Regions from separate parts of the Homo sapiens genome. Here all the other regions are linked to region 3. Evidence: fine-mapped expression QTL. A gene starts in region 3. Each other region holds a variant in brackets. All regions are shown on one strand. Distances are between the middles of the regions. Region 1 overlaps SIRT3 (sirtuin 3). Region 2 overlaps PSMD13 (proteasome 26S subunit, non-ATPase 13). Region 3 holds the start of CIMAP1A (ciliary microtubule associated protein 1A).

What was found. PIP is the estimated chance that this variant, and not a neighbour inherited with it, causes the effect.
Region 1: its variant is fine-mapped to the expression of CIMAP1A in whole blood (INTERVAL, PIP above 0.99).
Region 2: its variant is fine-mapped to the expression of CIMAP1A in whole blood (INTERVAL, PIP above 0.99).

What each region holds. Positions count from the first base shown.
Region 1 is chr11:226,042-234,219 of GRCh38, forward strand. It overlaps SIRT3 (sirtuin 3), which reads right to left. Exons shown (of 7, transcript NM_012239.6): 2 at 7,302-7,493; 3 at 6,942-7,174; 4 at 4,411-4,511. Among named protein-coding and RNA genes, the nearest start is that of SIRT3, 6.2 kb to the right of the region's middle. The variant C/CA (reference allele first, on the strand shown) is at 5,083.
Region 2 is chr11:240,022-248,199 of GRCh38, forward strand. PSMD13 (proteasome 26S subunit, non-ATPase 13) reads left to right here. Exons shown (of 13, transcript NM_002817.4): 3 at 4,020-4,054; 4 at 4,140-4,195; 5 at 4,405-4,448; 6 at 4,654-4,740; 7 at 7,256-7,427. It also overlaps the pseudogene LOC100420679. Among named protein-coding and RNA genes, the nearest start is that of PSMD13, 7.1 kb to the left of the region's middle. The variant T/C (reference allele first, on the strand shown) is at 3,796.
Region 3 is chr11:192,321-200,498 of GRCh38, forward strand. It overlaps CIMAP1A (ciliary microtubule associated protein 1A), which reads left to right and starts at 4,441. Exons shown (of 7, transcript NM_053280.5): 1 at 4,441-4,726; 2 at 4,977-5,093; 3 at 5,241-5,441; 4 at 5,879-5,980; 5 at 6,144-6,265; 6 at 7,049-7,189; 7 at 7,624-7,938. The coding sequence starts at 4,985. The coding sequence ends at 7,713. It overlaps SCGB1C1 (secretoglobin family 1C member 1), which reads left to right and starts at 758. Exons shown (of 3, transcript NM_145651.3): 1 at 758-834; 2 at 1,392-1,591; 3 at 2,098-2,255. The coding sequence starts at 780. The coding sequence ends at 2,130.

The DNA of each region.
Region 1 (8,178 bases), 34 kb after region 3:
TGTGAGACTTCAGTAAGTGCCCAGTAAATGTACATTTTACCTAAGATAGAAGGAAACAGAGGAAGAGAACTAAGCAGACCTCTCAGGGAAGGGTGAAGGAACCATTAATCTCATCTTGTCTTTAATCTGTATCTGGGAAGATAAACCAGTAATCCACATTAGCAGTGTAGAGTCTTTGAAAAGGGCTGGTTTCTGTTTAGCCCTTAGTGAAGAAGCCTAATGGTGGCTGGGGAGGGAGGGGTACAGTGAGGCGCGTCTGACCTCCTCTCCTGCTACGGCCAGGAACTCAAGCTTCCAAGGTTTCTCTGGGGTTCCCTTGACCAAGGGGAGGGCTCCATTCAGTTGGTTGCAGGGCTTAGAATTTTATTTTATATTTTATTTTTTTGAGATGGCATCTCGCTCTGTCACCCAGGCTGGAGTGCAGTGGCATGATCTCGGTTCACTACAACTTCTGCCTCCTGGGTTCCAGCAATTCTCCTGCCTCAGCCTCCCGAGTAGCTGGGATTACAGATGGGTGCCACCACAAATGGCTCATCTTTGTATTTTTAGTAGAGACGGGGTTTCACCATGTTGGCCAGGCTGGTCTCAAACTCCTAACTCAGGTGATCCACCCGCCTCAGCTTCCCAAAGTACTGGGATTACAGGCAGGAGCCACCGCGCCCAGCCTAGAATTTTATTTTATTTTTCTTAAGGAAGGCCTACAATTATTATTATTATTTTTTTTTTTTTGAGATGGAGTTTCGCTCTTGTTTCCCAGGCTGGAGTGCAATGGCCTAATCTCAGCTCACCGCAACCTCCGCCTCCCTGGTTCAAGCAATTCGCCTGCCTCAGCCTCCCGAGTATCTGAGATTATAGGCATGCACCATCACGCCCGGCTAATTTTGTATTTTTAGTAGATATGGGGTTTCTCCATGTTGGTCAGGCTGGTCTCAAACTCCTGACCTCAGGCGATCCACCCACCCGGCCTCCCAAAGTACTGGGATTACGGGCGTGAGCCACCATGACCAACTGGCCTACAAATTTTAAGCAGAAGAAATAAAAGAAAATTCATATGGAAAACCACAGTGGAGAAACCGCAAAACTCCAAAGACAAAAGTCTTAAAAAACAGGCAGAGAGGCCAGACACGGTGGCTCATGCCTGTCATCCCAGCACTTTGGGAGGCCGAGGCGGGTGGATCATGAGGTCAGGAGTTCGACACCAGCCTCACCAACATAGTGAAACCCCATCTCTACTAAAAATACAAAAATTAGCTGGGCATGGTGGCGCATGCCTGCAATCCCAGCTACTCAGGAGGATGAGGCAAGAGAATCGCTTGAACCTGAGAGGGGGAGGTTGCAATGAGCTGAGATCATACCACTGCACTCCAGCCTGGGCAACAGAGCAAGACTCTATCTCAAAAAAACAAAAAATCCAAACAACAACAACAAAAATAAAACAGGCAGAGAACAGATAGCAACAGTTTCAGAAATTTATATGAAAAGCCAAAAGATTCAGACCAGCCAACACAGTACTGAAGGAGAAGAACAAAGGTGGGGAATTAACATCAACCTGTTGCCCAAATTATCTATTTTATTCTCTTATTTATTTATTTATTTTGTTTTGAGATGGAGTCTCACTCTGTCACCCAGGCTGGAGTGCAGTGGTGCGATCTCAGCTCACAGCAACCTCCCCTCCCAGGTTCAAGCAATTCTTCTGCCTCAGCCTCCTGAGTAGCTGGGATTACAGGTGCACCACCACACCTGGCTAATTTTTGTATTTTTAGTAGAGATGGGATTTCACCATTTTGGCAGGCTGCTCTCAAGCTTCCCACCTCAGGTGACCCGCCTGTCTAGGCCTCCCAAAGTGCTGGAATTACAGGCGTGAGCCACTGTGCCCAGTCCCAAATAATCTCTTTTAAATGCAAATCCCTTCACATCATTTTCCTGCCTAAAAATCCTCCAATGCCTCCCATGATCGTCAGGATACAGTTCAAACCCTAACAGAGCAAGCAGGCCTCCCACACTCCAGGTCTCTGCTGCCAGAAACAGACTCTTACATCCAGACGGCCTCATCTCAAAGGTGCTTCCCAGCCTACTCTGTTCCTACAGCTGAGTCAGTGTAGTGTCCAGTACATATTTATAGTAAAATTCGTATGGCACCCAGTTGTAACTGTTGGATGACTCCACCTTATTTTAATTTCTATTCACATCCACAGAACCCAGCAAAGGGCCTGGCACTGAGGAGACTAAACTATTTGTTGAATAAATTGGTCATTCAATGAATGAGTTGACCAAAACAATAATACGTATATATCAAGTTTCTACTATGTGCTGGACTCACACTTCCTAATTTCAAAACTTACTACAAAGCTACAGTAACCAAAACATTATAGTGCAGGCACAAGGATATACAGATAACAATGGAATAGAATTGAGACTCTAGAAATAACCCATACACCTATGGCCAACTGATTTTCAACAACAATGCCAAGACCACAGTTTTTTTAAACAAATGGTGCTGGAACAATTACATATCCACATAAAAGAAAATGAAGCTGGATCCCTACCTTACAGCGCACACAAAAATTAACTCAAAATGGATCAAAGAACTAAATGTAAAAGCTTTAAACTATAAAACTCTTATAAGAAAACAGGAGTAAAACAATACCATTTCTCAGATATGATTCCAAAAGAGTGAGAAAATAAATAGACAAACTAGATTTCATCAAAATCAAAACTTCTATGCATCAAAAGACATCAACAAAGTAAAAAAGACAACCTACAGAATGACAGAAAATATTTGCAAATCATGTCTCTGATAAGGATCTAGCTTCCAGAATATATAAAGGACTCTCTTAACAATAAAAAAGACAACACAATTAAACAATGCGCAAAGGACTTCAATCTCCAAAGATATACAAATGGCCAAAAAGCACATGGAAAGATGTTTGATATCATGAATCATTAGGAAAATGCCAATCAGTGCTACAGTGGGTTACCACCTCCCACCCACTGGGATAGCTGTAATTAAAAAATGGAAAGTAAGTGTTGGGATGTGGAAAAGATGAAACCCTTGCCCACTGTTGGTGGAATGTAAAATGGTCCAGCTTCTGCAGATAACAGTATATTCGTTCCTCAAAAAGTTAAAACGGGCCGGGCGCAGTGGCTCTCGCCTGTAATCCCACACTTTGGGAGAAAGAGGCAGGCGGATCACGAGGTCAAGAGATCGAGACATCCTGGCCAACATGGTGAAACTACTCTACTAAATACAAAAATTAGCCGGGCGTGGTGGTGTGTGCCTGTAGTCCCAGCTACTCAGGAAGCTGAGGCAGGAGAATCGCTTGAACCCAGGAGGCGGATGGTACAGTGAGCCGAGATTGCGCCACTGCACTCCAGCCTGGTGATAAGAGCTAGACTCCGTCTCAAAACAAACAAACAAAAAAGTTAAACATGGGCAGGGCATGGTGGCTCACGCCTGTAATCTTAGCACTTTGGGAGGCCGAGGCGGGTGAACCACCTGAGGTCAGGAATGCAAGAGCAGCCTGGCCAACATGGTGAAACCCCATCTCTACTAGAAATACAAAAAACATTAGCTGGGCATGGTGGCAGGCACCTGTAATCCCAGCTTCTCAGGAGGCTGAGGCAGGAGAATCGCTTGAACCCGGGAGGCAGAGGTTGTATTGAGCCGAAATCGCGCCATTGCACTCCAGCCTGGGTGACAGTGTAAGACTGTGTCTCAAAAAATAAATAAATAAATATAGCTAAACGTGGAGTTACCCAGCAATACTTGTAGGTATCATACTCAAAAGAATAAAAAACAAGGACTCTCAAACGAATACTTGCATATGCTCCACAGCAGAACTATACACAAGAGCAGAAAGGTGGGACAACCCAAACACCCATCCATGTACAAACAAACCAACTGTGGTGCATACATCAGTGGAACATTTAGCCATGAAACAGGATGAAATACTAACACAAGCTACAAGGCGAAGGAGCGAGAAACATTTTCAGGAAATAAGCTCGGCACAAAAGGCCATCTGATTGCCGGGCGTGGTGGCTCACGCCTGTAATCCCAGCTACTTAGGAGGCTGAGGCAGAAGAATTCCTTGAATCCGGGAGACGGAGGTTGCAGTGAGCCGAGATCGCCCACTGCACTCCAGCCTGGGCGACAGAGTGAGACTCAATCTCAAAAAAAAAAAAAAAAAGTGGGCAGCTGGAATTGGCTGAAGGGAGATTCATTTTCCCTACATATTTCTATATTGTCTTAAATTTTTTTACAAGCATGTATTGATTTTCTAATTTACAAATAAAATGTTTCACACTATTATTGTTCAACTGTCCTTTCGAGACAATGCTTATAAAATACCACTTTTCCAGATCACCCCAACAGCAAACTGCAGAAGGACAACCAACAGCAGGATAACTCACCCGAATGTCCTCCCCTGGGAAGGGTCTTTGGCAGACTGTGCAGGTGGCAGAGGCAAAGGTTCCATGAGCTTCAACCAGCTTTGAGGCAGGGATGCCCGACACTGAAATTCAAGCCAAAGCGAAGTGTTGCTGCCGCCTCCGAGATGAGCACGCAAGGCCAAGAGCACAACTTCTGGGCTTGGCAGGACTCCTGGAAGGAGGCACAGCCCCTTGGGGTTGTGATGTCCTCAAGCCTGGTTTTCATGCCCGTATCACCTACATGCGCCATCAACCAGAATAAGGCAGGGGAGCAAAGGGGCACCTAGCTGGAGCCAAATCACGGTTAAAACAAAGCCTGTCAAAACTCAGTACGAAAAACCATTTGATAAAAGCTCAAATAAAATTATATCCAGCCGGGCACAGTGGCCCACACCTGTAATCCCAGCACTTTGGGAGGCCGAGGTGGGCAGATCATTTGAGGCTAGGAGTTCAAGACCGGCCTGGCCATCATGGTGAAACCGTACCTCTACTAAAAATACAAAAATTAGCCAGATGTGGTGGCAGGCACCTGTAGTGCCAGCTACTCGGGGAGGCTGAGACAGGAGAATCGCTTGAACCCGGGAGGTGGAAGTTGCAGTGAGCTGAGGTCGTGCCACCGCACTCCAGTTTGGGTAAGAGAGCGAGATTCTGTCT[C/CA]AAAAAAAAAAAAAAAAATTACACCTAATACCAGGCTGGGTGCAGTGGCTCATGCCTGTAATCCCAGTGCTTTGGAAGGCCAAGGCAGGAGGATCACTTGAGGCCAGGAGTTTGAGACCAGCCTCAGCAACATAGTGAGACTTGTCTTAAAAAATTTTTTTAATTAGCCAGGCATGGTAGTGCATGCCCGTAGTCCCAGCTATTCCAGAGGCTGAGGCAAAAGGATCACTTCGGCCCAAGAGTTCAGGCTATAGTGAGCTATGATCATGCCACTGCACTCTAGCCTGGGCAACAGAGCCAAGACCCTGTCTCAAAAATTTATATCTAATATCCAGGAACATATCTTCTATTCTACAGATACCAAGTTAAAATGAGGATATAAATATCATAAATTCCAAAAGAATTGCTTGGTAGAAACAGACAAAAAGTGACTTCTTATGAAAGTTGTGTTAGTATTAACTGGTTCTGAAAGGCTGCGGTGGCACAGCCAGGGTCCCAGCTGCAGGAGGCTTCCCAAGTCCCTGTCGCTGCCCTAACTCAGCAGTGCTGAATCTCACAGCCAGGAGCTCCCACCTTCCCACAAGGCCTGCCCTGCTGCACCTCTGGGAGAAGAGCCCACCAACATGGGGCATCCGCTGCTGCCTCTGTGGTTCCAAGTCAGGGGATCCTTCTGGCAAGGAAACACATTCCTGGAGCCAAGGTGCCACCTCTTTTTAACTGACAACACATCAGCAGTCTCTCCGGGAGCCTGGCTCCCGGAGAGCTGACTGTCCCAGCACCTGTCTGCATCACTGCACGTAAGGAAAAGGCCCCACCAAGTGCTTCCGTTAGGTGCACGGCCAGAAGTTGGCACAACCTGTGAATCGCTGGTTTGGGCACCATATGGATACGGTCAAGAAATCACCACAGACTAAGTGTGACCATATTAAGGAATTACTAGTGATTCTTCAGTGTGAATCACTATCAGAGTTGTTTTTATTTTTTAATTATTTTTATTTTTATTTATTTTTTTGAGACAGAATCTCCCTCTGTCGCCCAGGCTGGAGTGAAGTGGCACGATCTCGGCTCACTGCAACCTCCGCCTGCTGGGTTCAAGAGATTCTCCTGTCTCAGCCTCCCGAGTACCTGGGATTACAGGCACACACCACCACGCCTGGCTAATTTTTTGTATTTTTAGTAGAGACGGGGTTTTGCCACGTTGGCCAGGCTGGTCTCGAACTCCCGACCTCAGGTGATCTACCTGCCTCGGCCTCCCAAAATGCTGGGATTACAGGTGTGATCCCACACCTGTAATCCGGCACCCGGCCGGAGTTGTTTTTAAAGTATTCTCTAGAGCTATCCATTCATGTGTTTATAGATTATTTCTAGATTAAATTCATGATGTGAGAGATTTGCTTCAAAATAATCTGGGGATTTGGAAGAAGGTGGTGAGGACGCAGGAAGAACTGGCTGTGTGCTGGTGATGAGGACAGGACGGTTCGTTACATTGCTCTCTTTGTGTGTGCTCAAAAAAATTCCATAATACACTTCTTAAAAGAGAGAAGAAAAAAAGAGATCATCACACCAGATTGGCAAAACAATGTCAACTTCTGCCCAAAATACACAGCTCTGCAGGTATGCAGGAGAACAAGCAGTGGCCTTTAAACACCCAGAGGACATTTTCCTTGGGAACAAAGCCCTAACTAGTTGGCTCAAAAAAAGTCCCAAGGAAGAAGCATAAGCGATAGGTTTTGGCCGTCCCCAGAAACAGGCACCCGAGCATCCCCTGTGAGAAACAGGCACCCGAGCCTCCCTGGGAGAAACAGGCACCCGAGCCTCCGTGGGAGAAAAAGAATGTGTGCGACTCACAGAGGGCTCACCTCTCTCAAGCCCATCGATGTTCTGCGTGTAGAGCCGCAGAAGCAGCCCCTTGTCATGAAGCAGCCGGAGAAAGTAGTGAGTGACGTTGGGCTTGTAGTTTCCAGGGTACAGCTCCTTGGCCAAAGTGAAAAAGGGCTTGGGGTTGTGAAAGAAGAATGGGAGTTCAAAAATGGCCTCGGGGTACGGGAGATCGTACTGCTGGAGGTTGCTGTACAGGCCACTCCCCGGCGATCTGCAGGGAGAGAAGAAAGGCTCTGAGGCCTTTGGAAGAGGACAGGGAAGTGGAATAAACTGGGCAGTGGGGAGGGCAGGAGTCAGGGGAGGGGAGCGCAGAAGGCAGGTGGGACTGTGGGCAGTACCTGAAGTCTGGAATGCCACTGGGTGTGCTGATGCCGGCCCCCACCATGACCACCACCCTCTGGCAGGCTCTGGCCCGAATCAGCTCAGCTACATCCTGCAGGGAAAGCTTCCCCTTGTCACTGCTGCCTCCACTTCCAACAACACTTGAAGCACCCACAGAAAAAGATATGGACCTTCTTCCACCTTTAATACTGACAGAAAAAAACACAGCAGCAAAGGAAACAGATAGCAACCAATCTCAGGATAGCAAGAACGAGCATGGCTCTGCCCTCTGCACCACCGCCACCCTCGAGAATGAGCATGTGTGTCTCCCCAGGCCTCTCAAAATAATCACCTTTCTTAGACGACTATTGGGGTACAACAAAAAGCAGTCATAAATCAGAAATCAAGACTTACTTGGGAGCAAAAAATTCAGGTTAATGGGAACTGTGCTCATTTCATAATTCAGTACACTCAGTAGGCACTCAACTCTGACTGACTGCAAACCTCCAAAGGGGTCTCCTAATGAAAACTGGTTAAGGAGTCAAGAAGCAAAGAGGGAAAACCCTGGTTCTAAAACCATCTCACCACCTATTAAGCGCCCCACTTCACACAGCATTTCAGACATCTATTCACTTAAGGTCGTTCCCCAAACAGCTACTGTGCTCCTACTAAACACGAACTGTTAAGAGAAGCACAAAAGGAATGAAAGTTATTATTGCTGTTGAGTGCCTGCTGAGGGCAAGGTATCACGAAGGGTGCCTGAGTACATTCCTCATTTACGTAAATAAAATGTTTGTGAGTCACTGAAAAACACATAAACGGCGTTTTACCAAATGTCTGGAACATACGTAAGATGTATGGCTTAAAGTACATGCTGCATGGTGTGAAATTCAC
Region 2 (8,178 bases), 48 kb after region 3:
TACAATCATCTGTAAGCCTGGAGATTTTGCTGAACATTCAGTCTTCTGGATTATGTGGGAAAATGATAAATGAGACCTGCTTTTTTTTTTTTTTTTTTTTTTTTTTTGACGGAGTTTCGCTCTTGTTGCCCGGGCTGGAGTGCAATGGTGCGATCTTGGCTCACTGCAACTTCCACCTCCCGAGTTCAAGCGATTCTTCTGCCTCAGCGTCCCAAGTAGCTGGGATTACAGGTGCCCACCACCACAGCCAGCTGATTTTTGTATTTCTTAGTAGAGATGGGGTTTCACCAGTGTTGGCCAGGCTGGTCTCAGACTCCTGACCTCAGGTGATCTGCCTGCCTTGGCCTCCCAGAGTGCTGGGATTATAGGCAGGAGCCACTGTGCCTGGCCTGAGACCTGTCTTAATACTTGTTCCCTAAGGTTCTAAATCATCACGATAGATGATTCATAATTGTTTATCTCTGTCCTTTGGTTTCTTATCTTTAAATCACTTTTCTACACATGACAAAATATTTCCTCAACCTCATGGTAAGGTGATGTTTATTTAGGTTGGCAGATCTGAGTTTACTTTTCCCATAGACAGAATAAACCTTTAAAATTTGTTGGGATCCAGCTAGCATAAGTGTAAAATGGATAGTATTTTTGAATTTATAGTCACCAGAAGTAATTTTGACTTTCTGGACTTAGTGGGCTTCTTTTTTAAGGTAATTTTTTAGATTAATACATGTCAGGAAAGTTCAAACATTTCCTTCTAATAAGGAAGATATCTTTGAAATAGTCTTTTGTAATAAAAATGCCATTTTATTTATTTATTATTATTATTTTTTGAGACGGAGTTTCATTCTTATCACCCAGGCTGGAGTGCAATGGCACAGTCTCAGCTCACTACATCCTCCTCCTCCCGGGTTCCAGTGATTCTCCTGCCACAGCCTCCAGAGTAGCTGGGATTACAGGCACCCGCCACCACGCCTGGATAATTTTTGTATTTTTAGTAGAGACAGGGTTTCATCATGTTGACCAGGCTGGTCTCAAACTCCTAACCTCAGGCGATCCACCCGCCTTGGCCTCCCAAAGTGCTGGGATTACAGGTGTGAACCACCACCTGGCCACCATTTTATTTATTTTGGGTGGGCAAAGGGACAGAGTCTCGCACTGTCGCCCAGGCTGGAGTGCAATGGCAGATCTCAGCTCGCTGCAACCTCCGTCTCCCCAGTTCAAGCCATTCTCATGCCTCAGCCTCCCAAGTAGCTGGGATTACAAGCGTGTGCCACCACACCTGGCTAATTTTTGTAGTTTTAGTAGAGATGGCATTTCACCATGTTGGCCAGGCTGGTCTTGAACTCCTGTCCTCACGTGATCCACCAGCCTCGGCCTCCCAAAGTGCTACATAACAGACGTGAGCCACAGCACCGGGACAAAAATGCCATTTTATTTAGTTGACTGTTTCTTGTGTGCCTGATTGGAATATGTAATTGCTACAGGGGTGTTTTCATCCTTCTACCTTCATATCCCAGAGGAACTACAGGCTCTCCTAATCCAAAGTTAAGGTCATTTGGAGGTTCCCTCTCCTACTGTGCCCACACTAGGCGCTCTTGGCCCAGTTACCCCTAACTCAGGGGTTATTGTCAGCTCTCCTTCTCTGTGACCGGCCCACATCTGAGTGAGTCTGGTTCGTTACCCCTAAATCTCTCTCAAATTATTCATCCATCCTCATTACGGTTGCTCCCTCACTCTCCTGTCTTGGCCAGTACTAGCCTCTGACTGTTCTCTCTCAGTCTCTTTCACCTGCTGTCCTCTCTGCCCCAGGCGTGTTTCTAAAATAGAAATGATCATGTGTGTCCTCTGGTTCGGCCTTGCACTCTGGACAGAGACCAATCTTCAGTGCTTCCTAGTCTGTGTCCCTCAGAAATGCCCCTGAAACATAATGTATTTTTTTCTTCAGTGCTTTTGCACATGTTTGTTACTGTCTGGAATGTTCTTCTCTCAGCTTCTTCCCCTCCCACACCAAATGGCCACCTCTCTAACCGCCCTTCATTCCTTGAAACTCAGTATTGCCACTTCTACAGTAACCTTTGAAGCCTCTCCCTTTGGCTGATGCACTTCTGCCCCTTTTTTTTTCTTTCTTTCTTTTTGCTCTTAAACTCACTGTATTGTCATTTATTTGTTTAAAGACTGTCTTCAGTGGACCAGGAGCTCCTTGAAGACACATCATTTGTCTTACACGTTCTATGTTGTAGTATCTAGTATGGAGTCTGAGGAAGTGCTCAAGTGTGCTGAATGGCTAAGAAATTTGAAAACGGTGCATAATTAGCTTTAATTAAAATCTGAAGGAACTCCATTCTGTTTGATTAGCAAACATTTCTCTTTTTGTTTTAAATTTTATTTCATTAACTTAATAGGTGAACAAAATGTGTATTTCAAATCTAATTGAAATTCATCTGAAACATGTTTACACAGAAGATAGATATAAGATTTCAAGTAACTTATTGTACAGTCCATTGTCCATTTTAAGATATTCTTTCTTCCAAAAAAACTGCGTTGAATGTCAAAAAAAATCTTTTATACTCCATAAAATTGAGATGCAAACTTCTGATATAAATTTTTTTCACTGTCAACTCCGATGATAAAGATGGGAGGCACAAGCGTTCACAGTTCAGTTAAATGATGCAAACGAAAAGCTTCTGTTTTCCTTTGATACAAATTAGAAGCCTCCATTCAGGTCTCTTACAGTAGTACCGCATACTTGATCCTGATACTACATTATGTCTTTTTCTTTTTCTCTTTTTTTTTTGAGATGGAGTTTCACTCTTGTTGCCTAGGCTGGAATGCAATGGCACAATCTCAGCTCACAGCAACCTCTGCCTCCCTGGTTCAAGCGATTCTTCTGCCTCAGCCTCCCAAGTAGCTGGGACTACAGGCGCGCGCCACCATGCCCAGCTGATTTTTGTATTTTTAGTAGAGACGGGGTTTCACCATGTTGACCAGGATGGTTCCAATCTCTTGACCTCATGATCCACCCACCTCTGCCTCCCAAAGTGCTGGGATTACAGGCGTGAGCCACTGCGCCCGGATGGTTACGTCTTTTTCTTTCCCTTTTTTTACTTCCCTCTCCTTGTTGAAGACTTTGGTCACCACCTCCTGTTTTTTTGTGTCCTTGTTTTTAATTTAGGTATCATTTATGCTGCACACAACATTACTGACTTAACGTGGTGGGAAATGTACAAGATAGAGGCTGCCATTTTCCTGTTTGAGCTGGGCCCAGATTCTGCTTTTATATTGAACATCACGATTCCATTCTCTAGAGAACATTTTATTTTTCTCAAGAAATGCATTAAGTCCAACTGCTAAACATAGATCTTGAATCTCTAGCTGTAGGATTTTCAACAGTCTTACTTATGGGGATTCACCTTCCTTCCACAATGGTCTTATTATTTAAATGAGTAGGACAGATACAAATAAACCTGAACATAGATCTTGAATCTCTGGCTGTAGGATTTTCAACAGCCTTACTTATGGGATTCACCTTCCTTCCACAGTGGTCTTCTTATTATTTAAATAAGCAGGATAGATACAAATAAACCTGTCCTGGTAGGCTGGGGACCACACGGCAGCGCAGGCCATCTTCACAAGGGTCCAAATACCAACAGCCCGGAAGCCACAGGGAGAGAACTGAGGGAGCGTTTCAATCTGATAGTCTATTTAGCTTACAGTACCTGGAAGAAAGAATATAGGAATCTGTCTGGAGGTTCTTATAGGTCAGTACTCTAATTCCCAAAACTAGAAGAAACCTAATAT[T/C]CCTTAGTAATCTGTTGATCATTTATGTGAATGTAAGTAAGCCCTGATATGGTCTCCTATCATTCTGCAAACATGCATTGCTTACTGTGTGCTGGGCACTGTGGCTTGCACACTCCCAACTTGATAGCATTGATGCAGCTTCTTTACCAAAGATAGTGTTTGGGGTCTTCGTTTTGCAGAATAAAAGACATCCTATAATTTCTCTCCATGTTTTGGTTTCACAGCTTTATGAAAACTTTATCAGTGAATTTGAACACAGGTAAAAGCCTCTCATCCGTTTTTCACTTTGAAAATGAGTGCATTGATGCTCGGCGGTGCTCAAAGGCTGGTGGCTTTTATTTCAGGGTGAACCCTTTGTCCCTCGTGGAAATCATTCTTCATGTAGTTAGACAGATGACTGGTAAGTCTCACTTTGTTTTATAAAGGAGCAGATCCAAATGGTGGTTAAAATTGAAATATAAGTTAACTGAACTTTTGTGTTTTCTGTATCAGATATTATGTTTTTATTATACTTTATGGTCAAAACCTAAAGATTACCCTACCTAAGGGTGTCTTGGTTAGCAGAAACCAGTCTGTTGATGGTCCTTCTGATTGTTCCTTCTTTTCCAGATCCTAATGTGGCTCTTACTTTTCTGGAAAAGACTCGTGAGAAGGTAAATGTGGCATGTGGGCAATACCTTTTAGTACCTTTTAGAGTATGTATGACTTAACAGCTTGTGTTCATGCTCACTGTCCAGACCTTTAGAGACCACAAGGCCTCTAGTCATCAAGGTTAAGTTAATGTACAAGTAGCTAGCTTCCTTTGTTAGTCAACTGCCCACATTCTGAGGTTTCTTGTTTTTGTTTTTGATGTCTTAGGTGAAAAGTAGTGATGAGGCAGTGATCCTGTGTAAAACAGCAATTGGAGCTCTAAAATTAAACATCGGGGACCTACAGGTTACAAAGGTGAGATCACCATAATACAGATTTATCTTTGGTTTAAAATTATTTAAAACCCTAGGAAAAAAAATAACCTATTTTTCTTCTTTACTGTTTATTTTAAAACATTTTTACATTACAGAAAAGTTGCAAAAATAACACAAAGAACTACTATACCCCAACCTAAATTTCCCATTGCAAACCTTTTTTTTTTTTTTTTTTTAAAGACGGAGTCTCGCTCTGTTTCCCAGGCTGGAGTGCAATGGTGCAATCTCGGCCCACCGCAACCTCCGCCTCACGGGTTCAAGCAATTCTCCTGCCTCAACCTCCTGAGTAGCTGGAATTACAGGCGCGTGCCTCCCTGCCCGGCTAATTTTTTTGTATTTTTAGTAGAGACAGGGTTTCGCCATGTTGGCCAGGCTGGTCTGGAACTCCTGACCTCAAGTGATCCCTCTGCCTCAGCCTCCCAAAGTGCTGGGATTACAGCCGTGAGCCGCTGCGCCCAGCCCCCCCGATTGCTAACCTTTTACCGCTTTTGCCTTTGTGTGTGTCTGTAGCTTTTTTCCAAAACCACTTAGGAGTAAGTTGCTGATACAATGCCTGTTGCCCTTAAACAAAAGAGCACTCCCCTGTGTGACCACAGCACATCCGTCTAATAATGACTCCACATGGCCTCAGTCAGCCCAAAGCACATTGGTTCTCCCTGACCAAGGTCAGCCTACACACCACTGGCATGTCACGTGCTATTTCTCCATCTTCCTTCTGCCTCCTAAATGTTGTTGAAGTATCCTGTCTATTTTTATGTCTTTCTTATGTTCAATTATGTTTTGGTGCAGTTGGGAGACAGGTATGGATGTGGGTGGCAGTGAAACCGACATGTGGCTGGTCCACCTGGTTGAACCAGAACGTGTGTGTGTGTGTGTGTGTGTGTGTGTGTGTGTGTGTGTTTGCATGTGTGTTCGTGTGTTTGTGTGTGTTTGTGTGTGTGTGTTTGTGTGTGTGTGTGTTTGCTAATCACAATGTTAAAGAAAATATTGGGGGTAAGGGTTAAAGTGTTCATGTCCTCATTGCCCTGAAAAGATACTTTTTATTGTTTATTGTCAGTCCTAACCCATATGCATACTTAGTGCATTTTATTTTCAAATATTTTAAGACATATTGAAAGCTATAAGTCACAGTACAGAATGCTGTAATAGGCATCCATGTGCCCCAACCAGCTTAGGAAGGAATGAAGCCACACGGCACAGTCAGGGTCCCAGTACCCTTCAGACCACACTTCTCCCCCAGCCAGGCTCCCTCTCATGCCCATGCATTTCCTTGTCCTTCATTAAATAGGGGTGTGTAACTCAAGCGTTTTAACATTGGCTCAATACTAGGTTTCAGAGTCATGTGGGTATGTGTAACCAATGTGCTGTTACTCCTATACGGTATTTCATTGTATAAGTGTTTCACAACATATGTATCCAGTCTCCTATTGAAGAGATTTAGGGCCAGGTGCGATGGTCACACCTGTAATCCCAGCACTTTGGGAGGCTGAGGCAGGTGGATCACAAGGTCAGGAGTTCAAGACCAACCCAGCCAAGATGGTAAAACCCCGTCTCTACTAAAACCACAAAAATTAGCCGGGCATGGTGGCGGGCGCCTGTAGTCCCAGCCACTCGGGAGGCTGAGGCAGCGAATTGCTTCAGCCTGCAAGGCGGAGGTTGCAGTGAGCCGAGATCGCACCACTGCACTACAGCTTGGGCAACAGAGCGAGACTCTGTCTCAAAAAAAAAGGGAGATTTAGGTTGTTTTTTTTACTATCACAAACAGTACTGCCATAAGTATTTCTGTGCCTGGTCCCTTGTGTGTGGGCAGAATCTCACCAAGATGTATGCCTAGAGACTACAGGTACAAGCTGTGTGCATCTCTGCCTTTCCCAGATACATGCTCCCTCAGCACCATATGAGTACTCTGGAAGCTCCATGTCTTCAACACCTGATAGTTTCAGGCTCTAACTCTTGCTGATCTAATAGAAGTGAAATTATATCTTGTTGGGGGTTTAATTTGCATTTCACAATTACTAGTGGTTTATTGGCCATTCTGTTTGTGTCCCCAAATTTGTCAATTGCCTGTTAATGTCTTTTGCCCATTTTTCTACTGTGTTGCTTGTCTCCTGACTCATTTGTAAGTGTTTTTATATTTCCTTGGTCATAATTGCTGGTGGGTTATAAATGTTGTAAATATTGTTTCCCAGTCTGTAGCTTGTCTTTGTACTTTTTTCTGTGTTTTGGATTAAGTTTTCCATTTTAACGCGGTCACATTCATCAGTCTTTGCCTTGGTAGTTGATGCTTTTCATCTCACAATATATTACTTTAAAAATCTTAGCCAAGCACAGTGGCTTGAACCTGTAATCCCAGCTACTACAGAGGCTGAGGTGGGAGGATCACTTGAGGCCAGGAGTTCAAGACCACCCTAGGCAACAGAGTGAGACCCTGTCTCTAAAAAAATAAAATAAACTTTTAACTTAAAAAGAGAGATGATTTTCCTTCCTGTGTATAGGAAACAATTGAAGATGTTGAAGAAATGCTCAACAACCTTCCTGGTGTGACATCGGTTCACAGTCGTTTCTATGATCTCTCCAGTAAATACTATCAAACAATCGGAAACCACGCGTCCTACTACAAAGATGCTCTGCGGTTTTTGGGCTGTGTTGACATCAAGGATCTACCAGGTAACCTAGGCCATTAAATCCATGTCACACAGGAGCATATTCTCCAAACTTAGCATCTGTGAGTTGCTTGAGGTGACAGTTCTCAGAAATTACTAAGGTGGGGCTGGGCACGGTGGCTCACGCCTGTAATCCCAGCACTTTGGAAGGCTGAAGTGAGTGGATCACCTGAGGTCAGGAGTTCGAGACCAGCCTGGCCAACATGGTGAAACCCTGTCTCTACTAAAAATACAAAAAACTAGCCAGGTGTGATGGTGGGTGCCTGTAATCCCAGTTACTCAGGAGTCTGAGGCAGGAGAATCACTTGAACTCGGGAGGTGGAGGTTGCAGTGAGCCAAGATTGTACCACTGCACCCCAGCCTGGGTGACAGAGCGAGACTCCATCTCATCCAAACAAAAAAGAAATTACTCAGATGGATTCATCCTGTTTTGAAGAAAAAAATGGGAAGATTTGTGTAACCTTTAGTTTCTACATTATATTTGTCTCCAGCATTTAATTTACATGAAAATGAGGCTAATTCCTCCTCGCTCCTTCACTGTCCCTTCTCCAGTCCCTCACTGTTACCTAAGCCACAGGTATTTGTAGGAAGCACCATGACGCCAACACCTTCTGAGCCCTCCCCGCCCACCCCTCTGCTGCAGAATAAAGGGCACGTGAAATCCCTGTAGCTGAGACCCTTGTTTTGAAAACTGAAATTCCAGACCCATGGGGACAAATTATTAAATCTTTCAAGGATTTGAGAGTGGAAAGAAA
Region 3 (8,178 bases):
TCCTGGGACCATCTCCCCCAGGGCCTTCAACCTGGGGGGTTGAACCCCAGGATAGCAACCCCAAGCCCTCCTTGCTATCCTGGCTACTGATGGAAGATGTACCTCAAGCCTGTCCCATTCCTCACTTCCTGCTGAGACCTGGCCCCAACATGGCCAGCTCTATGTTCCTCAGACCCTCTCAGGCCACCTTCTCTCTTCTAGGCACTGTCACTGGGCTTCTCCCCACCCCATAGATCCACAGCCCCCAGGTAGTCCTACAGCTGTGTCCACTCGTGCAGCCTGCACCCCCTTCCCCTACTCGGCCACCCCATCTGAGTAGTAAGGGGCCCCTGCCTGATTGGAGACCCCCAGATGCAGACCCAGATCACACAGCACACTGATAAGAGGAGGGATTCGCACCTTAAAAGAAAGGCGTGGGACCAACCCCAGATCCCACCACTCTCGGCCTCAAGGGCAGGCATGACTAGAGGCCCTTGGTGGCCAGGACCCACTGCCTTCTTCACCGATCAGTTGGCATGGCCTCTCACCAGTGTTCCCTCCTAACACACCTGTTCTCTCTCTCACACACCCTAAAGCCGCTTGCCAACCACCTGTCACACAGCCACTCCATGCCTGTTGCTGCTTGGCACCCACTGGGGGCCAGGGATGTGAACAAACCTCATCTAAGCTGGCTGCCGGGTCCTAATGGGCAGGTCCGGTCCGCCCTCTAGGAGAGGTGCTGTCCGGTGAGGCATAAAATCCCGGGATTCTGGCTGGAGGCAGCTCCTGAGACTGCTGGCATGAAGGGGAGCCGTGCCCTCCTGCTGGTGGCCCTCACCCTGTTCTGCATCTGCCGTGAGTCTGTGCCACTGGGGTTTCCAGAACATTCAGGGGTGGGGGGGAGTGGGGGGTACCTGAGAAGGTAAAATCCTGGCATCGGGCCTCTGCAGTGAACACTCCACCTGCTTCTGTCACAGAAGTGGGCAAGGACCCTGCAGAACCCGCGCCCACCCTACTCCACCCCAACCAAGGACAAAGCCCAGCTGACCCAACACCAGCCCAGTGTCTCCTACCCCAGCCCAGTCCAGCCTGACCTGACCCTTCAAGCCTCTGGTCATAATAGCCTCTCATCAGGGGAAATTTCCCCCACACCAGGAGCTTAACTTTCCTTCCCTGGTGATCCCAGGGAATGCTGAGTGGAAATTGGAGCAGCTAAGATTAAGGGGGATGTGGAGGGGTCTTCGGGCAAGGTGGAGTTGGAGGTGTTGTGGAGGAAGCCCTGGGGAGGAGAGGTGGGCATTGAAGGGGAAGGTCTGGAGACCATGGAGGTTGGAGCCCTGGGGCAGGTCCAGGGCTGTGGTTGCACCAGAGTCACCCTGTCCTGTCCTGGCATCATCTCGCTCGTGATGCAGGGATGGCCACAGGGGAGGACAACGATGAGTTTTTCATGGACTTCCTGCAAACACTACTGGTGGGGACCCCAGAGGAGCTCTATGAGGGGACCTTGGGCAAGTACAATGTCAACGAAGATGCCAAGGCAGCAATGACTGAACTCAAGTCCTGTATAGATGGCCTGCAGCCAATGCACAAGGCGGAGCTGGTCAAGCTGCTGGTATGAGGGCGGCGGGCACCCCATTTTCTAAAGATCTGCAGCCTTACCAAGACCACCCAACACAGCACCCACACAGCCTACCCCACCCACAGACATCCACCACCCACAGACATTGCACCCGCATCAGCCAGCTCAGGTGGACACCCCAGACCTCCTGTCCACCGAGCAGCCCCCAGACTCCATAGACCTCCTCCCCAGTCTGTGGGATACTCCTCCATGCACACATGTGAACATACACAGAGATCCAAACACAGGTGCAGACATGAAATGTACACTGCGTGCACACATGTATAAACACGTTCACACCCACATGCTCACACTGGGATATGCACACACATACATGTGTGCACACCATCACATGTGCACACACACCTCCCAGCTGCTGGGAGGAGATAGGCAGCAATATGCCAGACCCCCCCCCACTGAGGGCCTTGCTTGCCTGATGGAGCTGTGGCTCTCCACTTATTGAGCACAGCCCTCTTAGTCCACATGTGTCTGCCTTCCAGGTGCAAGTGCTGGGCAGTCAGGACGGTGCCTAAGTGGACCTCAGACATGGCTCAGCCATAGGACCTGCCACACAAGCAGCCGTGGACACAACGCCCACTACCACCTCCCACATGGAAATGTATCCTCAAACCGTTTAATCAATAAAGCCTCTTCCGCAGCTCAGGCTCCTGTCTCTGCCCCCACAGAGGGGCACACAAATGGGGACATCAGGAACACACTCGGGGCCACAGCCACACACACAGACCCACATACAGAGGATCCCACTCAAGGAGCACACGTGCGAAAGTCCCCACAGAGGGACACACAAATGGGGACATCAGGAACACAGGGCCACAGCCACACACACAGACCCACATACAGAGGATCCTACTCAAGGAGCACACGTGCGAAAGTCCCCCACAGAGGGACACACAAATGGGGACATCAGGAACACAGGGCCACAGCCACACACACAGACCCACATACAGAGGATCCCACTCAAGGAACACACGTGTGAAAGTCCCCACAGAGGTACACACAAATGGGGACATCAGGAACACAGGGCCACAGCCACACACACAGACCCACATACAGAGGATCCCACTCAAGGAACACACGTGTGAAAGTCCCCACAGAGGTACACACAGGGTCCACACAGGAGCAGGCACACCACAGGCAAGACCCAAAATGGAAATCCAGGCAGACGCCACGTAGGCAGGTGGACAGAGCACAGAGCCAGACAACACTGCGTGGTCGTCCGGAGGGGGCGTCTGGAGGGGGCGTCCGGAGGGAGACGGGCGGCAGAGGCAGCGGTATGAGGTGGGAGCCCCAGAAAGAGGAAGTGTCCAGGACTGGGTGGACACAGACCCCATGTCGCCCATGGGCTAGGTCAGGGCGGGGGTGCTCAGCATCTGAAAGCTGGTGTCGAGCCCCAAGAGGACCCCTGACAAGGCCAAGAAAAAGGTACACCCATGTCCAAGGGGGTTGGGAGCCGCAGGTGAGCAGCCTCTGAGGTCAGCCAGGGCAGCCCCAGCGCCCACACTGACTCACACCCACCACAACCAGCACAGACCCTGATCCTGACCCTGGATCCCAGACTCTCCCACAGCCAGAACCTTCCAGCATTTCAGCTGCCCAATCTATGGTCTCTTCTGGGGGCACAGCTGAGTGGAACCGCCCCATCCTTGGCCACCCTGGGTGCTGAGCCCTGACACTTCACTGCCCCGGCCCTCCTCTCCACACCTCTGTCCTGTCTGAGCCTGGCAAGGGGGCCATGCGGTGCTGTCGGCTCTGTGCTCTGTCCCACCTGCCTACATGGTATCTGCCTGGATTTCCATTTGGCTGAGGGAGCCCTAGGGAGGGGGCCCTGGAGGACTTGGTTACAGGGGACCTGGTGAGGGGACCCAGTGAGGGGGACTTCATGGGTGGGTGCCTGGTTGAGGGGACCTGGTGAAAGAAACATGGTGAGGGGGCCTGGTGAGGGGTGGTCTGGTGAGGGAACTTAGGGAAACCTGGTGAGGAGGACCTGGTGAGGGGACATGGGGGGGACCTTGGTGAGGGGACCTGGTGAGGGGACATAGGGGGACCTTGGTGAGCGGACCTGGTGAGGGGACATGGGGGGGACCTTGGTGAGGGGACCTGGTGAGGAGGACATGGGGGGGACCTTGGTGAGGGGACCTGGTGAGGGGACATGGGGGGGACCTTGGTGAGGGGACCTGGTGAGGGGACCTGGTGAGGGGACATAGGGGGGGACCTTGGTGAGGGGACCTGGTGAGGGGACATGGGGGGGACCTTGGTGAGGAGGACCTGGTGAGGGGACATGGGGGGGACCTTGGTGAGGGGACCTGGTGAGGGGACATGAGGGGGACCTTGGTGAGGGGACCTGGTGAGGAGGACATGGGGGGGACCTTGGTGAGGGGACCTGGTGAGGGGACATGGGGGGGACCTTGGTGAGGAGGACCTGGTGAGGGGACATGGGGGGGACCTTGGTGAGGGGACCTGGTGAGGGGACATGGGGGGGACCTTGGTGAGGGGACCTGGTGAGGGGACATGGGGGGGACCTTGGTGAGGGGACCTGGTGAGGGGACATGGGGGGGACCTTGGTGAGGGGACCTGGTGAGGGGACCTGGTGAGGAGGACATGGGTGGGGAGCCTTGGTGAGGGGACCTGGTGAGGAGGACCTGGTGAGGGGAACATGGTGAGGGGAACATGGTCAGGGGGACTTATAGGGGTGTCCTGTTGGGGGGACCTGGTGGTGAGATCTGGTGAGGGGATCAAAGGCAGAAGCCATTGTCTTGGTCACATAGACAGAATCTAGAACCTGTCATCCCACAGAGCCACATTCTAGAGTTTAGAGTGGGGGACCTCTCCCCAATTCTGTAAGCCCATGAGGAGAGAGGAAGGCCTTTCTCTCCATGCTCCTTTTGCGGGAACTCCCTGGCACCAAGGCCAGGGGGGAAAGGACAGTCTCTGATGAGGATGGGTCTCTAGGCTGCTCTGAGTGCTGTCCCTGCACTGAAGAAGTTATAGTTCCCTCCCAGGCGGCCCCCTCCCTGCCCCTCAGCTCAGCCTCAATCAAGAAGTTCCCCATCTTTGACCACTCCAAGTAGGAGAAACCGGCCCAGGGCTCCCTTAGAGCCGAGAACAGTGGTGAGTTAAGGGCCAGCATGGACAGCAACTCTGGGTTACAGTTAAGCTGGTGAGGAGCTCACAGACCCATGCAGAAAGCTCCTACTGTCCCTGACTCCTGGCTCCCAGCTGGAGATCCCCACTGATGCTGCAGCAGGTTCCGCAGGTCTTACCCTTCAGTGTCAGCAAGAGCAGGGTCGGGGACATCAGGGGCCGGCATGGGACAGGGCCGGGCCTCCCAGCACCTGGTAACCCTCTCACTTACGGACAGAGCTGGCCATGACGGAGGAGGTATGGATGGGTACCTGGAGGCCCCATCGCCCCCGGGGACCCATCATGGCCCTCTACAGCAGCCCTGGACCCAAGTACCTGATTCCACCAACAACAGGTAAGAGCCTGAGAGACTGTGGGAGAGGGTCAGGAGCCAGGCGGGCAGGTGGGGGTCCCGGGAAGGGCCTGGGGCTCAATCCCTGACTCCCAGCGGGGAGAAGGGCAGGTCAGGCTCCGGGCTGCTCAGGGCCCATTGCGTCCACAGGCTTCATGAAGCACACGCCCACCAAGCTGCGTGCACCGGCCTACAGCTTCCGTGGGGCCCCCATGCTCCTGGCAGAGAACTGCTCCCCAGGGCCCCGTTACAATGTAAACCCCAAGATACTGAGGACTGGCAAGGACCTTGGCCCTGCCTACTCCATCCTGGGGCGCTACCAAACCAAGACCATGCTGACTCCTGGTCCAGGTTAGTGACCCTGTCTCAGGCTCCTGCCCTGCGCAGCCTCAGGCCTGCCCCTCCCTGCTGGGTGCCCCTAACCTCATGTCAGCAAGGGTGTGGGAGAGCTCAGCCATCCTGGCCCCTCCCGTCCCATCTTTCTCTCTTGAGGGGTCACCATCGTGCCTGGGCAGAGAAGACTCTGGCCCAAGAGTCCAGCTCCGACCTGGACCTTTCTCTGCCAGGCCGACGTCAGACCCCACTCTCCCTGCTCAAAAATAGCCTTTGTCTCACCAGCCCTGAAGTCAGCATTTCCATCCTGGACACCCCCTGACCCGACTTGGTCACCACCTGTGTTGGAGCCCAGAGGCCCCACGCCTAGAATGTTGGGGAGTCCTCCTTGAGCCCCCAAACTGGGCTGCATACCCACCTGCTTGTCCCAGCAGCCCCCTTGGCTCCTTGTCCAGGTGACTACTTTCCAGAGAAATCCACCAAGTACGTGTTCGACTCAGCACCCAGCCACTCCATCTCTGCCCGGACAAAGGCATTCCGAGTGGACAGCACCCCAGGTCCGCAGCAGCCCCAACCATCCTCAGCCAAATGGACCTGGGGATCCTGGGTGGGGTGTGTGACATGGGGCAGCCCGACGGCTGATCTCCAGAGTTGGGGGAGAGCCCCAGGGAAGGAGCAGTGGGCCCTGTTCCGGCCTGAGGCTCCACGTCCACCCTGCAGGCCCCGCTGCGTACATGCTGCCCATGGTAATGGGGCCCAATACCGTCGGCAAGGCCTCCCAGCCCTCCTTTTCCATCAAGGGCCGCAGCAAGCTGGGCGGCTTCAGCGACGACCTACACAAGGCAAGGGCCACCCCAACTGAGAACAGAGAATCACCCCCAACCATCTGAACCCTCCCCCGGAACCCAGGACCCACCAGTTCGGCCCTGCCTTGCCAATGCCCCTCAGCCCCCTCAGCCCTTCACCCTCTGGGCACCTGCCACGTGCTGGGGTTACACTGCAGTGGTGAGGAGGGGCAGGCAACAGGCCAGAAGGGAGACGCCCTGGCCCCAGCATGGACCGTGCTGAGGACAAGAGATGGGGTTTAGGAAGCACTGTCTGGAGAGAGAGAGGCAATCTTAGATAGGGTAGCATGGAAAGAAGAGGAGGAGGAAAAAATAAACCATGAGCTATTTGGGGGAGGAGGGTCCTGGTTTCAGAAACAGCCAGTGCAAAGCCCCTGGGTGGCACATGCCTGAGAGCTTGAGGGGCCTGAGATGGGGAAGCAGCATCATGGCACCCAACAGCCCTCGTCCATGTTGATTTTGCCAGCCCCAGGCCCTCAGGTCCAACAGGGCAGCAACAGCCTCTCTCACACACGCTCAGCGATGTTCCCAGGACTGGCACACACTGGGGATGCCATTGCCAGCGTGAGGCTGAAATGGAGGAAGTGACCCCCACATGAGGTACCCCACAAGCAGTGGGGTGTGATCTCCACAGTGTGACAGAAGACAGAAGGGGACCTTGATGCACGGGCACCAACTTGTAGCTGACCCTGTTGACTCAGAGCCTGAGTTTGCTCCCTGTCCTCTAGGGCCACACGCCCTGGGTAGGCCGAGTTGGTCTGAGCCTCCTTTACCTCTCAGACCCCAGGTCCCGCAGCCTACCGCCAAACTGATGTGCGGGTGACCAAGTTCAAGGCTCCGCAGTACACCATGGCTGCCCGTGTGGAGCCCCCAGGGGACAAGACCCTCAAGCCAGGACCAGGCGCCCACAGCCCTGAGAAGGTCCAGGAAGAGCACAGCTCAGAGGGGTCAGGGTGGGGCAGGGTCCTGGCCCAGAGGGATGTGTAGGAAAGAGCAGGGAGGGGGGCTGGGACACAGACGAGGGGAAACAGGGTCAGGCTATGGAAGGACACAGCCAAGAAGGGGTGGAGGGGTGGGGTGGGGATGGGAGGCACCTGCACCCTGAGGACCCTGTACATTTCCAGCACTAGGCCCACAGGTAACCCTTCAGGGACATGGAAGCAGAGACCCTGCCCTTTTCCCTAGACACTGTGACAGCTACTACTGCTGAGTGCTCTGTGTTCAAACCTGGGAGCATAGCTTCTGGCCACCTTGGCCCCAGGTTCAGGAAGGACAGCAGCCCAGCCCCAGCCAGGGCAGAGACCTGCAGGTGGGGGCAGGGGTGCTGGTTCCTATCATAGCCCCTCCTCTCCCAGGTGACCCTGACCAAGCCCTGCGCCCCAGTTGTCACCTTCGGCATCAAACACTCTGATTACATGACTCCCCTGCTGGTTGATGTGGAATAACGCCAGCCCTGCTGTGCCCCATCACACCCGGCATCTACACAAGATCCGCCGGGCCACAGAGCTCGAGGCTGTCTTCACCAGCTGGGCTGGGCCAGCCTGGCCCTGCAGGGCAGAGCACGCTTGTTTGGGCAATTGTAATCAGTTACTTTTTTTCTATGCTATTTTACCATTTTTTAATCTTGTTTTCTGCTGTGCCCAAATTATTAATAAATCAGATTGCATTAATAAGGGTTTGTCTTGGTGGAAGGATCAAGCATTTCCAGAAAGGAGCCCCCGTAGGCTGTCAGCACTTGCCCACAAGGGGTCCCATCCTGCCTTCTAGGGCCCAGGGTCAGCTTGGTGAGATGGGAGGGCCCAGGGTCTGTGTGGGGAGAGATGGTAGGGCCTGAGTACCTCAGACACCCTGCTCCACACTGTCCCTCCTGATGCTTTCTGCCTTGAACCCAAAGATGGCCACACCTGTGC